Homo sapiens: one gene and its partners. The protein of the gene in region 1 purifies or fractionates together with the protein of each later gene. This does not show direct contact. Each region holds a gene or a part of one and is shown in the gene's direction. Other genes may lie near its edges.

Evidence for each region.
Region 2: the proteins of ULK3 (region 1) and RCL1 purify together in Homo sapiens (affinity purification with mass spectrometry; one large-scale study listed by BioGRID and IntAct). This does not show direct contact.
Region 3: the proteins of ULK3 (region 1) and RCBTB2 purify together in Homo sapiens (affinity purification with mass spectrometry; one large-scale study listed by BioGRID and IntAct). This does not show direct contact.
Region 4: the proteins of ULK3 (region 1) and NUP210 purify together in Homo sapiens (affinity purification with mass spectrometry; one large-scale study listed by BioGRID and IntAct). This does not show direct contact.
Region 5: the proteins of ULK3 (region 1) and DEK purify together in Homo sapiens (affinity purification with mass spectrometry; one large-scale study listed by BioGRID and IntAct). This does not show direct contact.
Region 6: the proteins of ULK3 (region 1) and TPR purify together in Homo sapiens (affinity purification with mass spectrometry; one large-scale study listed by BioGRID and IntAct). This does not show direct contact.

The regions. Positions count from the first base shown.
Region 1 is NC_000015.10:74,837,888-74,840,156, reverse strand, and holds part of ULK3 (serine/threonine-protein kinase ULK3), read left to right. Parts: intron 1-443; coding exon 444-599; intron 600-783; coding exon 784-889; intron 890-1,106; coding exon 1,107-1,147; intron 1,148-1,411; coding exon 1,412-1,514; intron 1,515-1,652; coding exon 1,653-1,717; intron 1,718-1,812; coding exon 1,813-1,891; intron 1,892-1,964; coding exon 1,965-2,005; intron 2,006-2,269. UniProt on the Homo sapiens protein: Serine/threonine protein kinase that acts as a regulator of Sonic hedgehog (SHH) signaling and autophagy.
Region 2 is NC_000009.12:4,795,944-4,799,443, forward strand, and holds part of RCL1 (RNA 3'-terminal phosphate cyclase-like protein), read left to right. Parts: intron 1-3,500. UniProt on the Homo sapiens protein: As part of the small subunit (SSU) processome, it plays a role in 40S-ribosomal-subunit biogenesis in the early pre-rRNA processing steps at sites A0, A1 and A2 that are required for proper maturation of the 18S RNA.
Region 3 is NC_000013.11:48,523,081-48,526,580, reverse strand, and holds part of RCBTB2 (RCC1 and BTB domain-containing protein 2), read left to right. Parts: intron 1-1,823; 5' UTR 1,824-1,922; intron 1,923-3,500.
Region 4 is NC_000003.12:13,410,323-13,413,822, reverse strand, and holds part of NUP210 (nuclear pore membrane glycoprotein 210 precursor), read left to right. Parts: intron 1-3,500. UniProt on the Homo sapiens protein: Nucleoporin essential for nuclear pore assembly and fusion, nuclear pore spacing, as well as structural integrity.
Region 5 is NC_000006.12:18,233,531-18,237,030, reverse strand, and holds part of DEK (protein DEK), read left to right. Parts: intron 1-430; coding exon 431-579; intron 580-3,500. UniProt on the Homo sapiens protein: Involved in chromatin organization.
Region 6 is NC_000001.11:186,311,152-186,313,702, reverse strand, and holds the end of TPR (nucleoprotein TPR), read left to right. Parts: coding exon of another isoform or gene 1-22; 3' UTR 23-808; coding exon of another isoform or gene 809-934; 3' UTR 935-1,330; coding exon of another isoform or gene 1,331-1,528; 3' UTR 1,529-2,051; downstream 2,052-2,551. Other genes in the region: PRG4 (proteoglycan 4 isoform A preproprotein), read right to left, coding at 1-22, 809-934, 1,331-1,528, 2,107-2,263, 2,533-2,551.

The DNA.
Region 1 (2,269 bases):
CTGCAGAGACTGGAGTATGGGCTCCAGGCTGCCTTTGTGGTGGAGGGGCAGGTTCTAGGCTGGAAGTCGAGGTGCCAGGCTGTCCCAGGGCCTCAGGTCAGCCCACAGCTGGCAGCACAGTGCCCATTTTGCAGGCCCTTGTGGGGAGAATGCAAAGCAGAGCCAGGCCCAGCCTTCCTAGGAGCATAGTCCAGGGAGGGAAATAAGGACCCAGAAACACGATTCTAGCTCAGCTCAGGGCTCCAGCGAGGGTGCACCGGGAGCCCAGGGATGGAGGCCTCGCTCCCCGCTGGCTCCATCATCCTGACCCATCCTGTTCCTCCTCGGTCTCAGATTCCCCACCTGTCCAACGCGTACCTCTGGGGTTCCTCGCAGACCCCTGGGCTAGGGGTAGGGGTGGAGGAGCCCAGTGTGATCTGTCCCTGCCGTTCCCTTCCCTGCAGCTCCCCTTGCGGCCCCTGCTCTCCCGAGACTGCCGGGACCTACTGCAGCGGCTCCTGGAGCGGGACCCCAGCCGTCGCATCTCCTTCCAGGACTTTTTTGCGCACCCCTGGGTGGACCTGGAGCACATGCCCAGTGGGGAGAGTCTGGGGCGAGCAGTGAGCAGACGGCTGGGGCTGGGGTGGGCTGAGGGTGGGCTGGAGGTCTCCTTGCCCCCGTTGGTGGTGAATTGGTGACTCACCCAACAGAGACAGAGGGCGGGCTCAGGGGAGCTGATCTCCCATCTTGGTGAGTGTGGGAGGGTAGGGAGGTGGACCTGACCCCTGATCTGCCCATCCCCAGACCGCCCTGGTGGTGCAGGCTGTGAAGAAAGACCAGGAGGGGGATTCAGCAGCTGCCTTATCACTCTACTGCAAGGCTCTGGACTTCTTTGTACCTGCCCTGCACTGTGAGTCCCAGGCCATGCCTGAAGCCCGTGGGTGCAGCAGGGATGGGAGTCATCTGTGGCTGCAGTAGGTGGATTCCAGAAGTTCTCTATCTAGAATTTTGTAGGCGATAAAGCAGAGCGTAAACCTGGAATATTGTGTTTTGAGGGATTCCAGAGGGTTCGTTGTGGGGCAGGGAGGGGTTCGCCCAGACTCCTCATATGACCTCACTTTCTGCAGATGAAGTGGATGCCCAGCGGAAGGAGGCAATTAAGGCAAAGGTGGGTGAGAGTCCCCATGAGGAAGTGGGGGGGCAGGGGGTAAGGCCCGGAGATCTCGGGGGCCTCTGGGGAATGGCTCTCTTAGAATTGGAACTTCCTCTCCTGCAACACAGAGCTGGGAATGGGTCAGGCCAGCCACATTTGCCCCCTGACATGTTTATAGCTTGAGGCAGTCACTAACAATGCAAAGGGAGAACTTGGAGGTGGGTTCTGGCAAGGGTAGCTGGTGAGACAGCCCCTCCTCAGGCCCTTTCCCTGCTACAGGTGGGGCAGTACGTGTCCCGGGCTGAGGAGCTCAAGGCCATCGTCTCCTCTTCCAATCAGGCCCTGCTGAGGCAGGGGACCTCTGCCCGAGACCTGCTCAGAGGTAGACTCCGGTTTCTGGCTGACCCCAGGGCCCCCAGCAAACCTCCCCACAGCCTGAGGGGGAGGCGGGTGGGGAGAGGCATCCTGCAGCGAACAGGCAGGTTGCTTCCCTCACCCTGAGCCTTTCCCCTCATCTCAGAGATGGCCCGGGACAAGCCACGCCTCCTAGCTGCCCTGGAAGTGGCTTCAGCTGCCATGGCCAAGGTTTGTGCCAGTGGGAGGGGTCCAGGTGGGTCGGGGCAGGGCAGGGAGATACCCAGGCCATGACCCTAAGCAGCCTGGTGTCCTTGTGGCTGCAGGAGGAGGCCGCCGGCGGGGAGCAGGATGCCCTGGACCTGTACCAGCACAGCCTGGGGGAGCTACTGCTGTTGCTGGCAGGTGAGGGCCCCCATTTATGCCCCCCACAGGGCCTCTGGCCACCCTGTCCTCACCACACACCCTCTCTTTACAGCGGAGCCCCCGGGCCGGAGGCGGGAGCTGCTTCACACTGAGGTGCCCACTGAGCTTGAGAGGGTTGGGGGGCTTCCTCTTCCCCTTTCTCTGCTCTTACCTGTGGGGACCTCTTTGGGTTCCCTCTGGAATGTCCCACTGTCAGGGTGTTCCAAGTCTGGAAGTCAAACCATAGGGCTGGGGTGCTCAGACAGGGCAGTGGGGGATCTGGGAACCCAGCAGCAAAAAGTCTGGGAAGGCTTCCTGGAGGAAGGAGCAGATAAGGGACTCAGGAGGCAAGTTGTTCTGATGGGGCAGAGGGTTCTG
Region 2 (3,500 bases), on another chromosome or scaffold:
TTGTACAGGGGCTCAGTGGAGTTCAGAGCAGACACTTCCCTGAAAGTTACGAAGGAAGGCAGGTTTTCTGGACCTGATCTGGACAGATAGGATTGAGATGGTGGCTGCGGAAATCATTGTTTGCAAAATAAACAGTTCTTTTTTTAAAGAAATTTTATTTTAGAGTCGGGGGTACATGTGCATGTTTGTTACATGGATATATTGCCTACTGGTGGGGACTGGGCTTCTGGTGTACCCATTATCCAAATAGTGAACATCGTACCCAATAGGTAATTTTTCAATCTCCCTCAATCTTCCTCCTTTTCCAGTCCCCAATGTTTGTTATTTCCATGTTTAAGTCCATGTGTATCCATTGTTCAGCTCCCACTTATAAGTAAGAACATGGAGTATTTGATTTTCTGTTTCTGAATTAGTTCTCTTAGGATAATGGCCTCTAGCTCCATGTTGTTGCAAAGGACATTATTTCATTCTTTTTTTTGAGACAGAGTCTCACTCTGTCATGAGTGCAGTGGTGTGATCATGGCTCACTGTAGCCTCAACCTCTTGGGCTCAGGTGATCCTCTCACGTTAGCTTCCTGAGTAGCTGGAACTACAGATGTGTACCACAGCATCTAGTTGATTTTTAAAATTTTTTTTGTAGAGATGGGGTGTTGTCTATGTTGCCGAGGCTGGTCTTGAACTCCTGGACTCAAGCAGTCGTCCTGCCTCAGCCTTCCAAATTGCTGGGATTACAGGCATGAATAACCATGCCCAGCCTGATTTCATTCTTTTTTATGGCTGTGTAGTATTCCATAGTGTATATATACCACATTTTCTTTATCTAGTCAACCATTGGTGGACACTTAGGTTAGTTCCATCACTTTGGTATTGTGAATAGTGCTGCAATAAACATACAAGTACAGGTGCCTTTTTTGTATAATGATGTCTTTTCCTCTGGGTAGATACCCAGTAGTGGAATTGCTGGGCCATATGGTAGTTCTATTTTTAGTTCTTTGAGAAATCTCCATATGAAAGAAACAGTTTTTAAGTCAAAAAGTTCTTTATTTTCTTTATTTTACTGAGGTAAAATCCTTAATTTGTCATGGTCATAATACTTGGCAATTAAGAGCTTGGGGTCAGTATTGGACCTTGGTTTGAGTACGAGTTCTGCCTTTCGCTATTAGCTCTTGGTCCTTGGGCAAATTATTTTAACTATTCTCTTCTGAGCCTCAACTTTTTCACCTGTAAAGTGGGGCCAGTACTACTGACTTCACAGGGTTATTGTGAGGACTAAATGAAATAATACTTCAAAGTGTACTGAACAGTGCCTGGCACATAGGAAGAATAAATGTTAGCTGATTTTATTATTATGTAGCTTGAACCCACTGGGTATAGGTCTGCTCCCTGGCATGCCAAATCCGTTCCTGCTTCTATATGGAAATTTTTCAGATATTTGAAGAGAATTATGCCTTCTGTAAAGTTCTTCTCCTAGGTGGTTGTTTCCACGTATTTCTATGTTATATGTAAAGCACAGTAGTTTTCAACCAGGGGCACTTTTGTTCAGTGGGGGACATTTGGGAGCATTTGGAGACATTTTTGGTTGTCACAGCTTGGCAGAGGGGAATGCTACTGGCCTCTAGTGGTTAGAATCCAAGGGTGCTGCTAAATATCCTACAGGACAGCCTCCCACAACAAAGAATTATCCATTCAAAATGTCAGTAGTGCTGATGTAGAAAAACCCTGGCCTACTTGACAGTAGTAATTAAACCTTTTCTTTTCCCTGTATCCCTAATGATTAGGAATAGCAGCATGTGACACCAAGAAGACTACACAAGGATTTAGAAACAAATGAGACACAGATCAAACTCTGTGACTTCAGGCAAATCATTGAATCTCTTAAAACTGTCCCCTTCCATTGCAAAGGGGTTGTAAATACTGAAAGGAATCTGAACCCCAAAGAAGGATGGTCCCGGGCTGGTGATTATAATTGTCCAGCCACATGTATAATTTATGCTTCCGTTTTGAGGAACATGAACAATTAAGTTTATCTCATTGTACTCTTCCTTTCATTGAAGAGGAAGTAAATATTTTTTCTTGTTGCTGCTGTTTTACTCAAGGTAAAAAAGCCAACCCGTAGTTAGGTAAGATAGTTGGTGAAGACAAACGTGTAGTGAGGGACAGAGCTGGAAAGAGAATGTGGCCAGCTCCTGCCTGAAGGACCTGTTCTCTCTCATTTCACAGCGTGATGGACCTGGGTGTTCCTCATCAGTATTATAAAGCAGCTGTCCAAAGTGCCTCTATCTCTGGATTTCATGAGGACTGTGTCCTGCAGGGTTCAGTTTAACAGTCTCTGTATAATGTGAGGTCTAAATGGAAGAGAATCCCACCAGAATAATTGTTTAAAGTTGGAATAGCAGAAATAATGGACTTGAACAAGAGCAGTGACATAGGAGTCAGAAGACAGGACTGCTACTACCCAGGATCCTGAGCAGGTCATGTAACTAAGCCTTAGTGTCTTCCCCTGTGAAATTGAGAGGAGTTACTTGGTCCCATGGGGGAGTGCTCCATATGGCTTAAGCAGATAAGATTCTGAAAAAGAAGAGCTAAGTGGAGTTTTAATCAAAAGGGTCCTTTAAAATGTGCTGAGGAAGCATGCCACAAAGAGGTCCTTTGAAAGGTAAAACATGTTTTGGTAAACCAGTGCATTGTTTTGGGAATAAATCTGGCTGTTCCTAACTTGGATCCTTTAAAAGGAGGATGTGCCTATATTTTATTTCGGCCTGGTTTGGGACCCAGAATTCTTGATGGACAACTGGTTTTGGGGCGTAACAGATAACTTTACTACTAACTGTAGATTGAATATGTCCTGTTAATCAGGAACATACCCTTTTGTGCCTCTGATGACAAAGTATGCTTCCAAGTGATGATTTTTGGCTGCCCAAAATAAGACTTCTTCTTTTTTTTTTTTTTTTTTTAAAGGCAAATGCCAAGAATCCTAATGACCAGTTTTCAGATACAGTGTTGTTTGGAAGCTGTTGTATAAATGCCTTGCCTTTTCTTTTCTTTTCTTTTCCTCTCTCCCTCCCCTTCCCTCCCTCCCTGTCTTCTTTCCCCCTTCCCCCCTCTCTCCCTCCCCCATCCCTCTCCCCCTCCTTCTCTCCTTCCCTCCCCTTCCTCTCCTTCCTCTTTTTCTCCCTCCCTTCCTTCCTCTCTTTCTCTTTTCTTCTTTTTCTTAGAGATGGGATCTCACTATGTTGATCAGAGTGATCTCAAACTACTGGCGTCCAGTGAGCCTTCTGCCTAACTGTCCCAAAGTGCTGAGATTACAGGCAAGAGCCACAGTGCCTGGCCGTAAGTGCTACTTCAGATGGAACTATCTACCATCTTTTTTAAGAAAACAAACTTTTTATTTTGAGATAATCGTAGATTCACATGCAGTTGTAATAAATAATGCAGAAAGATCCTGTCTGTACTTTATCCAGTTTCCCCCAATGGTGATATATGGAAAAACTATGGTACAA
Region 3 (3,500 bases), on another chromosome or scaffold:
CAGTGGTGCGATCATAGCTCATTAAAAAAATTATTTATTTTTTATTTTTTGAGATAAGATCTTTGTCACCCGGGCTGAGTGCAGTGGTGTGATCATGGTTCACCGCAGCCTCCACATCCTGGGTTCAAGCGATCCACCTATCTTAGCCTCCCAAGTAGCTGGGACTACAGGCGTGTACTACCACGTGTAGCTAATTTTTAAGTTTTCTGTAGAGACGGTGTCTTCCTATGTTGCCCAGGCTAGTCTCAAACTTTTGGGGGCCTCAAGCGATCCTCAAAGTGCTGGGATTACAGGTGTGAGCCACCATGCCTGGCCTTCCTAGGGTATTGATTCAATTTTATTTTACAGATGGCTAAAGAAATTATAGTTTATGAGTTTTCATTACCAAACGTTTATTGAATTTCCATGTCCTTGGTAAAGGCAAAATTAGAATGATAGCATTCTCATTTTAAGAGTTTATTTTCTTTAACATTGGGTAACCTTAATCTCTCCATCCTGAGATGATTAATTTAAGCTTAAAATCTTGAAAACCATCTTGTCAGATGGAAAAGCTGTAGCATACCAATTCATTGACAGAGTTACATGGGACCTTTTATCTTTGGTATTCCCTCCACCAAAACTTCCCCACGAAAAAATTCCCATCAAAGTCTAGCCATGCATATGTTGGTATCCATAACACATTAAAATAGTACTGTCTTCTGCATGTTTTAAAATGTTATCAAATATCAAATGTTATCAAATGATACCATATGTATCATTTTGTGACTTAGTGATTTTGGTGAACATTGTTTTGTAGATATACCTGTTTTGATTCTAGATAATTTATTTTAATAGCTATATAGTATGCATATGCCACAGTTTATTGGTTTTGTTGATCAATTTGTTCTTTCTTGCTTTTTGCTATTGGGAATATTTGTGTGTATGCTCTAGAGTTTATCTAGGGCAGTGTTGCTAAAATTGCAGGACTTGTTAGTGATCTGGAAATTAGTGGGCTGAGATCAGCATTTTCTTTTAAAATGAAATTGAACAAGATAAAATAGGATAGAGTAGGGTAGAATAAAATAGCATAAAGTAGAAAAATGGAAAAGATATCAAGCATCTCATGTAGGAGGAGTAAGAATTATTTTGTGAAATTTCAGTTATATATACATATATAACTGAATATATATATATATATATATATATATATATATATATATATATATATCATGAATCCTTTGCTCACTTTTGAATTGTGTCGTTTGTTTTATTCTTACTGATTTGCAGGCATTCTTTATATATTTTGTGTATGGATCCTTTCCAAGCTGTCCATTATGCATGTTACAAATATCTTCCCCCATTCTGTGGCATATTTTTCCTTTTGTTCAAGTTTACTGCTCTTTTCTTTGTGTTTTATGCTTTCCTGTCTTATGTATGAAATCTTTAACTGCTCTGAGGTCATAAATATATTTCTATACTTCTAAAAGTTTGAAAGTTTTGCTTTTTTTTACATTTCCACATGGATTCTCTTTTATTTTCCATATGGAAATACTATAGATTAAATTCTCCTTAGTGTGCATTTTTTCATGTGTTTCAGTGTCCAAATTGTTGAAACCCTCTCCTGAAGCTTATAAAGTATGATATTCTAAAGTTACATTTTATAACTTTAGTATTTTTATAATAGAGCATCTCTGCTGCTGACTTTTTAATAGTAGATAGCACAGATACAATTTTTAAGCTGTATTTTTCTCAGATAAAGAATGGATTGTTAAATGTGCAAGACAGTATATTCTTTTCCTTCTGTTTTTCTCTAATAGAATTTATTTGTGTATTTATATTTCCAGTCACATTAACTTTGCTCTAGAAGACAACTTTACAAGGATCTAAAAGGAACAGGATTAAAGATGACTGAATACTGGGTTCCAGAAATTTAAAACAATCAGGTACAAAAGTTTTTGGAGGGAATGCTCCCAGCCAGTCAGTATAAAATAGAACTGTTGAGAATGTACACAAGAAAAACTTAAAGTATCTAGCCCTGAAATACAGTGGAGGGTCCCAAAACAAGGGCTTTGGAATAGTCCTGGTTCAAATACTGGCTCTGACACTGATTGGTTGGTGACTATTGGTCACGTTACTGAAATGTGTGAATAAAATGGAGGCAATGATTAACCTGTTTCATTTGGATATTATAAAGATTAAATAAGGTGAGGCACTTAGTGCCTGGCACAGAATAACTTTATTTTTACTGTTGTTATTGCTGTTGTTATTTAGAATACATTTTATCACATCATGGATATGGCTTTCTGTATGTATATTGTGAATTGTTATTTTAAGTATATATATCAACATATTGTTAATAGCCTGGTGAAATCACATGGATAACAGGGTAAGGTAATCTCCACGTGTAGTGCACAAACTATACATGCAAATTGGGGATGATAGTTTTCTTTATTATGTATGCATCACATTGAAATAATGTAAAAAAAAAAGCCAACCATCTCCCACAATGCTAAAAAATTCAAAACACTTTTTAATAGTATTATACAATAGTAATTAATCTTGATTTATTTTTAAATCTTGAAGGACTTTCTGATTGACAAATATGAAATTATGTTAATCTTACATTTCATTCAATTTGAATCCTGCATGTCATTTCTTTGAATGTGGTAATTTCCATGACATACATACAATTATGTCTTAACCTGATGTCAGATAAACAGAATGGCCTGTTTTCCTACCATTCTAATTTTAAAGAGTTTAATTTTACTTGAAATTGATAAAAGACACTGAAAAGAGGTTATTTCCTACTCAAAAGCCCAGGATCGGTTTTTCATGATTTTAGCACATTAGGAAGATTTCCCTTCTGCTAGGAACGAAAGGGGGCCTAGGGTAGTGCAGTGAGGGGCAGTCACATCTCTACTTGGTCCCTTCTTTTTTCTCTTCTCTCCCTCTTTCTTCTCCTCTCCTTTTATTTTTTATTCCAGTAAACTTGGGGCAAATATGGAAAAAGTGTTTCCTGATAGGGTGAGGCAGAAGGAGAGGGAACTTTGGTTACAGGCCAGTTCCAGTATACAAAAAGCTGGGTTCTAAGGATGCTTTGTATGAATACGTTGCGTTTTACTCTGAGCCATGGGCTGTGGGTTATAGCAATGAAGGAATCGTCTGCCCTTTTGAAGAACTTACCAATTAATAGAGAAGGTACATCATACAAGAATAACTGTCATATGAGGCAGAATTTGAAAAATGCCTTCAATGTAGTTAAAAACAAAACAAAAAGTGCTGTGGAAATACAGAGAAGAGGTCCCAGCCCATTTGGGTAATCAGGATCCACATTGATGTAAATCTCAGTGGCAGTCATGCTGGGTCTTAGAGAAAATTAGGATTTTAACAGATCTGCTAAGATGCCATAGATAATATGTAGTAAGTATTAATTAAAATGACAGAATATCTTTCCATATTGTCAATCAGATCGGTTTATAAATTTTTAAGTGAGAAACTTCTAAGTAATCTTCTAAAAAGCA
Region 4 (3,500 bases), on another chromosome or scaffold:
TAGGTGTAGAGTTCTGTGGCATGAAGTACGTTCACAATTGTTGTGCAGCCACCTCCACCATCCACCTTCAGAACTCTTTCATCTTCCCAAATGGACACTCTGTACCCATTAAATAGCAACTCCCTATTTTCTCCTGCTCGGGCCTTGGCCAACACCATCTTTTCATTGTACTCTTTGATGTTTGCCTGTCTCCCAAGAGAACAGGCAGACGCCTAGAGTCTTTGCAGGTAGCAGCTTCCCCCCAGGACTTACTGACACTGCTTTGAGTCATCTGGATGGATGACAAATGCTGTGATATTCTTATTTACACTAGTGTGTAAGGTTTCCTTTTTTGTTTGTTTGTTTTTTTTTTTGAGACAGAGTCTTGCTCTGTCGCCCAGGCTGGAGTGCAGTGGTGCGATCTTGGCTCACTGCAAGCTCCGCCTCCCGGGTTCATGCCATTCTCCTGCCTCAGCCTCCCATGTACCTGGGACTACAGGCGCCTGCCACCACGCCCGGCTAACTTTTTTTTGTATTTTTAGTAGAGATGGGGTTTCACCATGTTAGCCAGGATGGTCTCGATCTCCTGACCTCGTGATCCGCCCGTCTCGGCCTCCCAAAGTGCTGGGATTACAGGTGTGAGCCACCGCGCCCGGCCTCAAGCAATTCTTCTGCCTCATCCTCCTGAGTAGCTGGGGCTACCGGCATGTGCCAACACGCCTGGCTAATTTTAGTATTTTTAGTAGAGACGGGGTTTCACCATATTGGCCAGGCTAGTCTCGAACTCCTGACCTCGTGATCTGCCTGCCTCGGCCTCCCAAAGTGCTGGGATTACAGGCGTGAGCTACTGTGCCTGGCTTTTTTTCTTTTTTTGAGACAGAGTCTTGCTCTGTTGATCAGGTTGGAGTGCAGTGGCCTGATCTCGGCTCACTGCAAGCTCCGCCTCCTGGGTTCACGCCATTCTCCTGCCTCAGCCTCCTAAGTAGCTGGGACTACAGGTGCCCGCCACCATGCCCAGCTAATTTTTTGTATTTTTAGTAGAGACGGGGTTTCACCATGTTAGCCAGGATGGTCTTGCTCTCCTGACCTCATGATCCACCTGCCTCAGCCTCCCTTTTTTTTTTTTAATTGAGATGGAGTCTTGCTGTATTGCCTGGGCTGGAGTACAGTGGCAAGATCTTGGCTCACAGCAACCTCTGCTGCCCAGGTTCAAGCGATTCTCCTGCCTCAGCCTCCTGAGTAGCTGAGATTACAGGCATCCACCACCATGCCCGGCTAATTTTTGTGTTTTTAGTAGAAACGGGATTTCGCCATGTTGGCCAGGCTGGTCTCGAACTCCCGACCTCAGGTGATCAGCCCTCCTCTGCCTCCCAAAGTGCTGGGATTACAGGTGTGAGCCACCACACCTGGCCAAGGTTTCCTTTTAAAGTAATTTTTTAGTAAAGAAGAATCCATTTAATACAATAATAAGAAAAGGGCCGAGCATGGTGGCTCATGCCTATAATCCCAGCACTTTGGGAGGTTGAGGCAGGAGGATCGCTTAAGCTCAGGAGTTTAAGACCAGCCTGGGCAACATAGCGAAACCCTGTCTCTACTAAAAAAAAAAAAAAAAGAAAAGGAAAATAAAGCTGGGTGTGGCACAGGCACCTGTGGTCCCAGCTACTCCTGAGGCTGAGGCAGGAGGATTGCTTAAACCCAGAAGGTCAAGGCTGCAGTGATCCATGATTGTACCACTCTACTCCAGCCTGGGCAACAGAGTGAGAGCCTGTCTATTAAAAAAACTAGGCCGGGTGCAGTGGCTGGCCAGATGCAGTGGCTCATGCCTGTAATCCCAGCACTTTGGGAGGCCGAGGAGGGCGGATCACCTGAGGTCAGGAGTTCGAGCCCAGCCTGGCCAATATGGTGAAACCCCATCTCTACTAAAAATACAAAAAAAATAGCTGGGCGTGGTGCTGGGCGCTTATAATGCCAGCTACCTGGGAGGCTGAGGCAGGAGAATTGCTTGAACCCGGGAGGCGGAGGTGGCAGTGAGCTGAGATTGCATCACTGCACTCCAGCCTGGGTGATAAGAGTGAAACTGTCTCAAATAAATAAATAAGTAAATAAACGAATACAAGTCATACCTGTATGTGACTGGGCTAGGGCAGGTGTCCAACCAAGAGGAGCCTGATGGTGGGGAGGGGCCGTCGGCAGGTGCAGGTGTCTAGGCAACTGCCCTTCCTGGCCACAGCCTGCAGGTCCAGAGGCAGGGGCTTCCAGTGTTGCAGAGGAGATGTGGGGGTGGTGACAGGGGGGATGGACAGAGGGAGCCAAAATGAAAGAACCAATTTTTCTGTTAATCCCTTTGCATACTATGCCCCCACTTAATCCTAAAAATGAACAATAAACAAAACTCCTTTGGTAAGAATGACTGCACTGTACAAATGAGGAGCCTGGGTCCAAGAGCCTCACAGCTGGTTAGTGGCAGAGCTGTGTCCAAAACCAGCCTCAGATCCAGAACCACACTCACTCTCAGATGCCTGGGGAAATGCGCCACCCTTCTCAGATGATTGTTGGTTTACCCAGTTTCCTTCAGCTGGATTTTAAAACTTCAGTAGTACTTTTATTTTTCTGAGACAGATTCTTGCTCTATCACCCAGGCTGCAGTGCAGTGGCACAATTATAGCTCACTATAACCTCAAACTCCTGGGCTCAAGTGATCCTCCCTCCTCAGCCTTTAGAGTAGTTGGGACTATAGATGTGAGCCACCACGCCCAGCTAATTTTTAAAATTTTTATTTATTATTATTATTTTTTAGAGACTCACTATTGCACAGGTTAGTTTCAAACTACTGGCCTCAAGCAATCCTCCTACCTTGGCCTCCCAAAGTGCTGGGACTAAAGGTGCATGCCACCACACCTGGCTAATTTTTTTTTTTTTTTTTTTTGAGACAGAGTCTTGCTCTGTCACCCAGGCTGGAGTGCAGTGGTGCCATTTCAGCTCACTGCCAGCTCCGCCTCCTGGGTTCACACCATTCTCCTGCCTCAGCCTCCCAAGTAGCTGGGACTACAGGCGTCTGCCACCACGCCCGGCTAATTTTTTGTATTTTTTAATGGAGACGGGGTTTCACCATGTTAGCCGGGATGGTCTCGATCTCCTGACCTCGTGATCCACCCGCCTCGGCCTCCCAAAGTGCTGGGATTACAGGTGTGAGCCACCGTGCCCGGCCTTTTTGTTTTTTTTTTTAGAAATGGGGTCTCACTGTTGCTTAGTCTGGTCTCAAACTCCTGGTCTCAAGTGATCCTCCTACCTTGGCCTCCCAAAGTGTTAGGGTTACAGGCATAAGCCACCATGCCTGGCCCAGTGGTGCTTTTAAAAATCAGTATTGGCCAGGCACAGTGGCTCACGCCTGTAATCCCAGCACTTTGGGAGGCCAAGGTGGGCGGATCACCTGAGGTCAGGAGTTTGAGACCAGCCTGACCAATATGGAGAAACCTCATTTCTGCTAAAAATACAAAATTAGCTGGGTATGGTGCTACATG
Region 5 (3,500 bases), on another chromosome or scaffold:
AGCCTTGAACTGCTGGACTCAAGCGAGTCTCCTATCTTGGCCCCCCAGAGCACTGGGTTTACAGGCTTGGACCACTGCCCTTGGCCTGAAACCAAGTTTTGACTGCGACCCGTCACACGAGGTCGGGTATGGAATTACCTCCTGGTGGTGTCATGTTGGTGCTCTGAAAAGCTGGATTTTGGAACATTTCAGGTTTTGGATTTTTGGATTAGGGATGCCTAACCTGTATACCAGTTTTTTATAGTTTTTGATTTTTCAAATTGACTAAAATTTGTATGCATGTTTTATAGGTAACTGTAGAGTAGTGATTTATAATTTTTTTGATCCAGTACCCCTTTGAGAATCTGTTGAAAGCTTAAAATTCATCTCAGCCTTTGTTAAATGTTAATTTACTATGTAAGAAAAATTATTATTATTATATTACTTTTAGAAAGTGAGTCTGAGGATAGTTCAGATGATGAACCTTTAATTAAAAAGTTGAAGAAACCCCCTACAGATGAAGAGTTAAAGGAAACAATAAAGAAATTACTGGCCAGTGCTAACTTGGAAGAAGTCACAATGAAACAGATTTGCAAAAAGGTAATTAGACAAATGTTTAGATTATTTTGCTTTTGCTAGAAAAATTCTTTCACTTATCTCTGAATTTGAAGCTAAATACTTACGTGCATTCACTTATTGAAGAAAGATTTATTGAACTACTATATGCCAGATCTCCTTACAGGTGCTGGGATACCACTTAAAATAGTCAAAGTCTCTGTCCTAATAGAGTTATTTTATAAACAACATTAAAATGAATAAAGTTAGAGTGAATAAAATTAAAGTGACACATTCCAAACCACATAGGAAACTTTTTCTGATCTGTAGGTTGTTTCTATTGATGTATCCTTAGTTTATGTTAGTTTAAAGAAGCAGAATCTCATGAACCGTCTTATTCTCTTCTTAGTGTGATAAATGAGCTGTTATAGATTAGGTTCTTAACTCAGACTTCTGCAGCGTCTTTCTAATATTTCTAATACTTCTCAGGAAATAAAGTGGCCTTGTCTTGAATATGATTCCATAGGGATTCTATGGAAATTTTAGAAACTTGTCTGTTGGGGTAAAATAAAATTACAATTTGGAATGTACCAAAAGTGAAATAGTCTGTGCTTTTTTAAAGGACATTGATTATTATTTTGTTCATTCATTCACCATTCATTGATTCTCTACTACATTTCAGGCACTGGGCTAAATGTTACAGGTAGAAGCTAGATGTGGTGGCTCACGCCTGTAATCCCAACACTTTGATAGGCTGAGGCAGGAGGACTGCTTGAGGCCAGGAGTTCAAGACCAACCTGGGCAGCATAGTGAGATCCCGTCTCTACCAAAAAAAAATTTTTTTTAATGTTACAGGTGGAACCAGAGAAGCCATTACTTAGCTTTCAAGAGGAGCTTACAGTCTAGTGGGATGGAAAGAGATAAATATTTTAGTAATTAAAATATTGTAAGCGAGGGCTGTGTTAGAATATGGAAGGTACTGCAGTGCCACAGAACAAGCACCCTACTTGAGGCTGGGGGAATCTGGAAAAGCATCTTGGAAGAGCTCTTAACTGAATTTCCTAGTGGAGCATCACCCATTCTATACAGTTGAGGAACAATAACACATTAACCAAAACAATAATTGAAAGGAATAGTATTAGTTCAACATGTCTCAAGACTAGGATTGGAAAGAAGTCCTCACAGAAGTTAGGAGAAAATATTAGAGTTTTGCAGATCTTAAATATGCCATGTTAGAGTTTGAGTTTCTTCCTGAAATAAATGAGGAATTCAGAGGCTATGTAGATTATTGAGATTTAGCAGGGGCATAACGCAATCATATTTTTATTTTTAAAAGTTATCCTAGAAACATTAAGAACAATGCAATAGCAAAGGATGAGATGAGAGAGGCAGGACACCCAGTTATATCATCATTAAAATGACAGTGTGGAGTGGAGAGGAAGTCAAAGAGAAATTAGTTCTGTCCATTAGAAGGATTTTTGTGAATACCTTCATGTAAATTTTTTAAAGGGATTAATAACATGGAGAGGTCAGGTGAGAAGGAACTGACCTGTTTTGGAGTCTGCAATTAGGAGACGATGACATAGGGTGGTAAAAGCAAGAGTTATTAATGAATAGTGAGGAAAATGAACAAAGTAACTTCTGTTTCAAGCAGCTGTCTTTGGAAGGAAAATAGTAGGTAAATGGGAGTAGGTGAGAAAGTATTTTTAATGGGTAGTAGGGGTGGAGGGGAGAAAGCAATTTGGTGGGAAAGGAGAAGTTACAGGAGAGGTGAAGGGTGGTCCTGTGGAGGCAAAATTAAGAACCATTGATGAATCCAGATACAACTGGAGGGGAAAGTGCTGTCAGAAAATTGAAGGAATTCATAATAATGGCTTTTTGGCTGACAGTAGCAGTGTGAGACACTTGAATAAGGAGATGAAACTGCCATTGGTGGAAATGAAAGGAGAGAGCCTGACTGGGAGCTCCAGGGGGAGGAGCCTTTGAAGATGAATGCCATGAACTGAAAATGAGACCAGTCTCTTCAAAGTTATTTTCCCACAGCAATCTGTAGTCTGGGCTTAACCATAGAAAAATGAGTGGTTAGACCAATTCGGGATTGGGGTTTTGCAGGGAAAGAACAAGGGGCAAACAATTTTTTTCTTTTTTTTAATACTTTTAAGTTCTAGGATACATGTGCACAACGTGCAGGTTACATATATATATATATATATATATCCATGTGCCATGTTGATGTGCTGCACCCATTAACTGGTCATTTACATTAGGTGTATCTCCTAATGCTATCCCTCCCCCGTCCCCCCCACCCCACAACAGGCCCCGATGTGTGATGTTCCCCTTCCTGTGTCCAAGCGTTCTCATTGTTCAATTCCCACCTATGAGTGAGAACATGCAGTGTTTGGTTTTCTGTCCTTGCGATAGTTTGCTGAGAATGATGGTTTCCAGCTTCATCCATGTCCCTACAAAGGACATGAACTCATCCTTTTTTATGGCTGCATAGTATTCCATGGTGTATATGTGCCACATTTTCTTAATCCAGTCTATCATTTGGGTTGGTTCCAAGTCTTTGCTATTGTGAATAGTGCCGCAATAAACATAACATGTGCATGTGTCTTTATAGTAGCATGATTTATAATCCTTTGGGTATATCCCCAGTAATGGGATGGCTGGGTCAAATGGTATTTCTGGTTCTAGATCCTTGAGGAATCGCCACACTGTCTTCCACAATGGTTGAACTAGTTAAAGTCCCACCAGCAGTGTAAAAGTGTTCCTATTTCTCCACATCCTCTCCAGCACCTGTTGTTTCCTGACTTTTTGATGATCTCCATTCTAACTGGTGTGACATGGTATCTCCTTGTGGTTTTGATTTCATTTCTCTGATGGCCAGTGATGATGAGCATTTTTTCATGTGTCTGTTGGCTGCATAAATGTCTTCTTTTGAGAAGTGTCTGTTCATATCCTTTGCC
Region 6 (2,551 bases), on another chromosome or scaffold:
ACATCAATGTTATAGTATTGATCTAAATGGAAGAGAAAACATTTTTTTAGTTAAAAAGAAAACAATGCCCAAACTAAAAAATAACTTATGTTGACTATTATGCTCAAAGACAATGTTTATCATTTTAATAGAGATGTTTTTACTAATTAATTTGAACTTTATAACAAAAAGAAAAACAATTGCCTAGACTTTTCAGCTTTTTTGATGTTTCAAAAGATTGACATTTCACCATCTTTTTGTAAAATCAGGTTCAGCTCTCCTTTATGAAGTAAACATTAAAGAGTAACCAAGTTTGAAAAATAATTTACTTGGGGTTATTCCTTTTAAAAAATACATGCCAATGTCATTCATATTATGAAATTACAGGCAGAATAACTTAGATTTCTGGGCATTTCAAAGAAAAGCATCCTGAGTAATATAATTTAATTAATAAAATTAGTTTCTCAGGAACTTCTTTCTGATCTTACAGACTCTGCAGTGATGCAAATCATTATAACCTTGTGCCAAACAAGGTATCTGTTAAATGCCACAAATGATAGAAGTAAAATACTATTGTCAGTAGCAAGTTTACTCTAGTAACTGGATGTTTTATCGTAATCTCATGAAGGTTAGAGCAGAATTGAATTGCAGTGCCATCATTTTAATTGAAATTAAAGCAAAAGTCTTAACTCTTTTCCACAGCAATTAGAATAAGTACCGTAGTGTAACTTCTCACATTCAGTCATCATTGCAGCCAGCATTTTTACTTTATCTTCATGTTTTCACAAATGATATCACCTCCTTGGGAAACTGTTAGTTAATACCTTACCTTTAGAAAAGGCATAGTAATCATAGCCGTCAGGTTTTCTGATGTTGGGCAGTGATATAGCTGAGGTAACCACATTTGGAAGTCCTCTCCACAGTATACTCACTTTAACTTCATTATGAAGGACACCTGTAAGTGGCATGTTTAATAAAAGATACCAGATTAAAAGGCAATGTACTATCTTGGAAAGAGCCAGACATCTGAGTTTTAATCTCAGTTTTAGCCCTCTGATGTAGAACTATTGAGGGTTATAGACTGGTATATAATGTTCTTGGTAAGAAGTACTTGATAAATAGTATTGGTTATAACTAACAAACCTGAACAAACTGCTTTACTTACCCACAAGGAAAAAGAAAGTATTGGTCTTTGGTTATTCACTAAGGCAAGTGGATGAGTTTTTCATCAGTAAGCTTAAATTATTAGGGCTGTTTGATCAGTATCCATATTTCATAAGCCTTACTGTATAAGAAACTGTATTACATCTACTTATGTTTAAGGATTTTTTTAACACAATAAAAATGTTACCTTTGTCTTGATAAGCCAGTCTGGCAGGTGAATATTGAATTCTGATGGTGTGTGTTTGAGAAGGTCCTATAGCACGTTCAAAGCGACGTCTCCTAACCTGTGTCGTTTCTCCATACACTGGATAATTTAGAGCAGGCCTTCTTCCAGGGCACTTCTGTACAGGTTCCTGTTTATAAATATACTGCTGAATGCTGCCACCTGTTATGTATTAGAATATCACATGGAAAATGAAAATTAATTTTAATACCCTCAGAAAAGGTGGAAAACAACTTTTACAATGTATAGGAAACAGTTTTGTTCTCATTTTTCATATAATATATTGATATTAATAATGGCTATTAGTCAAGGGTATTATAAAAATAATTATTAAACTGAAATACTTGTTGAATGAATAGATGCAGCAAATTACATAGTTATATATTTAATTTCAATTGAAAGTGACAAGTGCTCAGTTTGGCAGCACATATACTAAAACTGGAATGATACAGAGATTAGCATGGCCCTTGTGCAAGGATGACATGCACATTTGTGAAGCGAAAGTAAATGACATTCTATCAGTGACCTGAAAACTCAAATGAATTGTGACTTGCCTGTGAAGAAATGAAAATAAAAATTGAGGGCAATAAGAATACTACCCTCAATATTGATTTTTTTCACTGAAAATATTTGATTTCAGCCATTAAAGATATCTTTTGACAGTAAAGTCAATAATAAATGAAAATGCTGAGTGTAATTCTTTAAAAGTTTTGTAATCTTGTCAATTATGTAACACATACCTCTCTTGAAAAAATACACAGATTCAGGCCAGTTCTTATATTTAGCTGTTGAAAGCGCTGCCACTATTTGTCCAGTTAGTCCTCCAAATCCTTTGAAAATTGGTTTGGGGTACCCTGCATCTTTTATATCATTGGTAAAACGCCAGTACTGAGAATCCTGATAATTTAAAAGAGAAAATTATGTTATCAGCTTTGGGAAAAAAGATTTGGAACTCCTTTCTAGATTTAAGTATAGAGAGAACGTGTTAACTTGGTTAAACGGTTGAATTTTGACCATTACTGTTATCAAACTGTTGAATTATGATTAAATTTTGATGACAGAGTATTTAAAAGGACACATATTGGAGGTTAAGGCAATATATGTTGTAATAAATAATGCAGTTACAAATTATTATTAAATTTCTCTCACAAAGATATTTGTGTTACCTTAAAGAAGAAAGTTTTT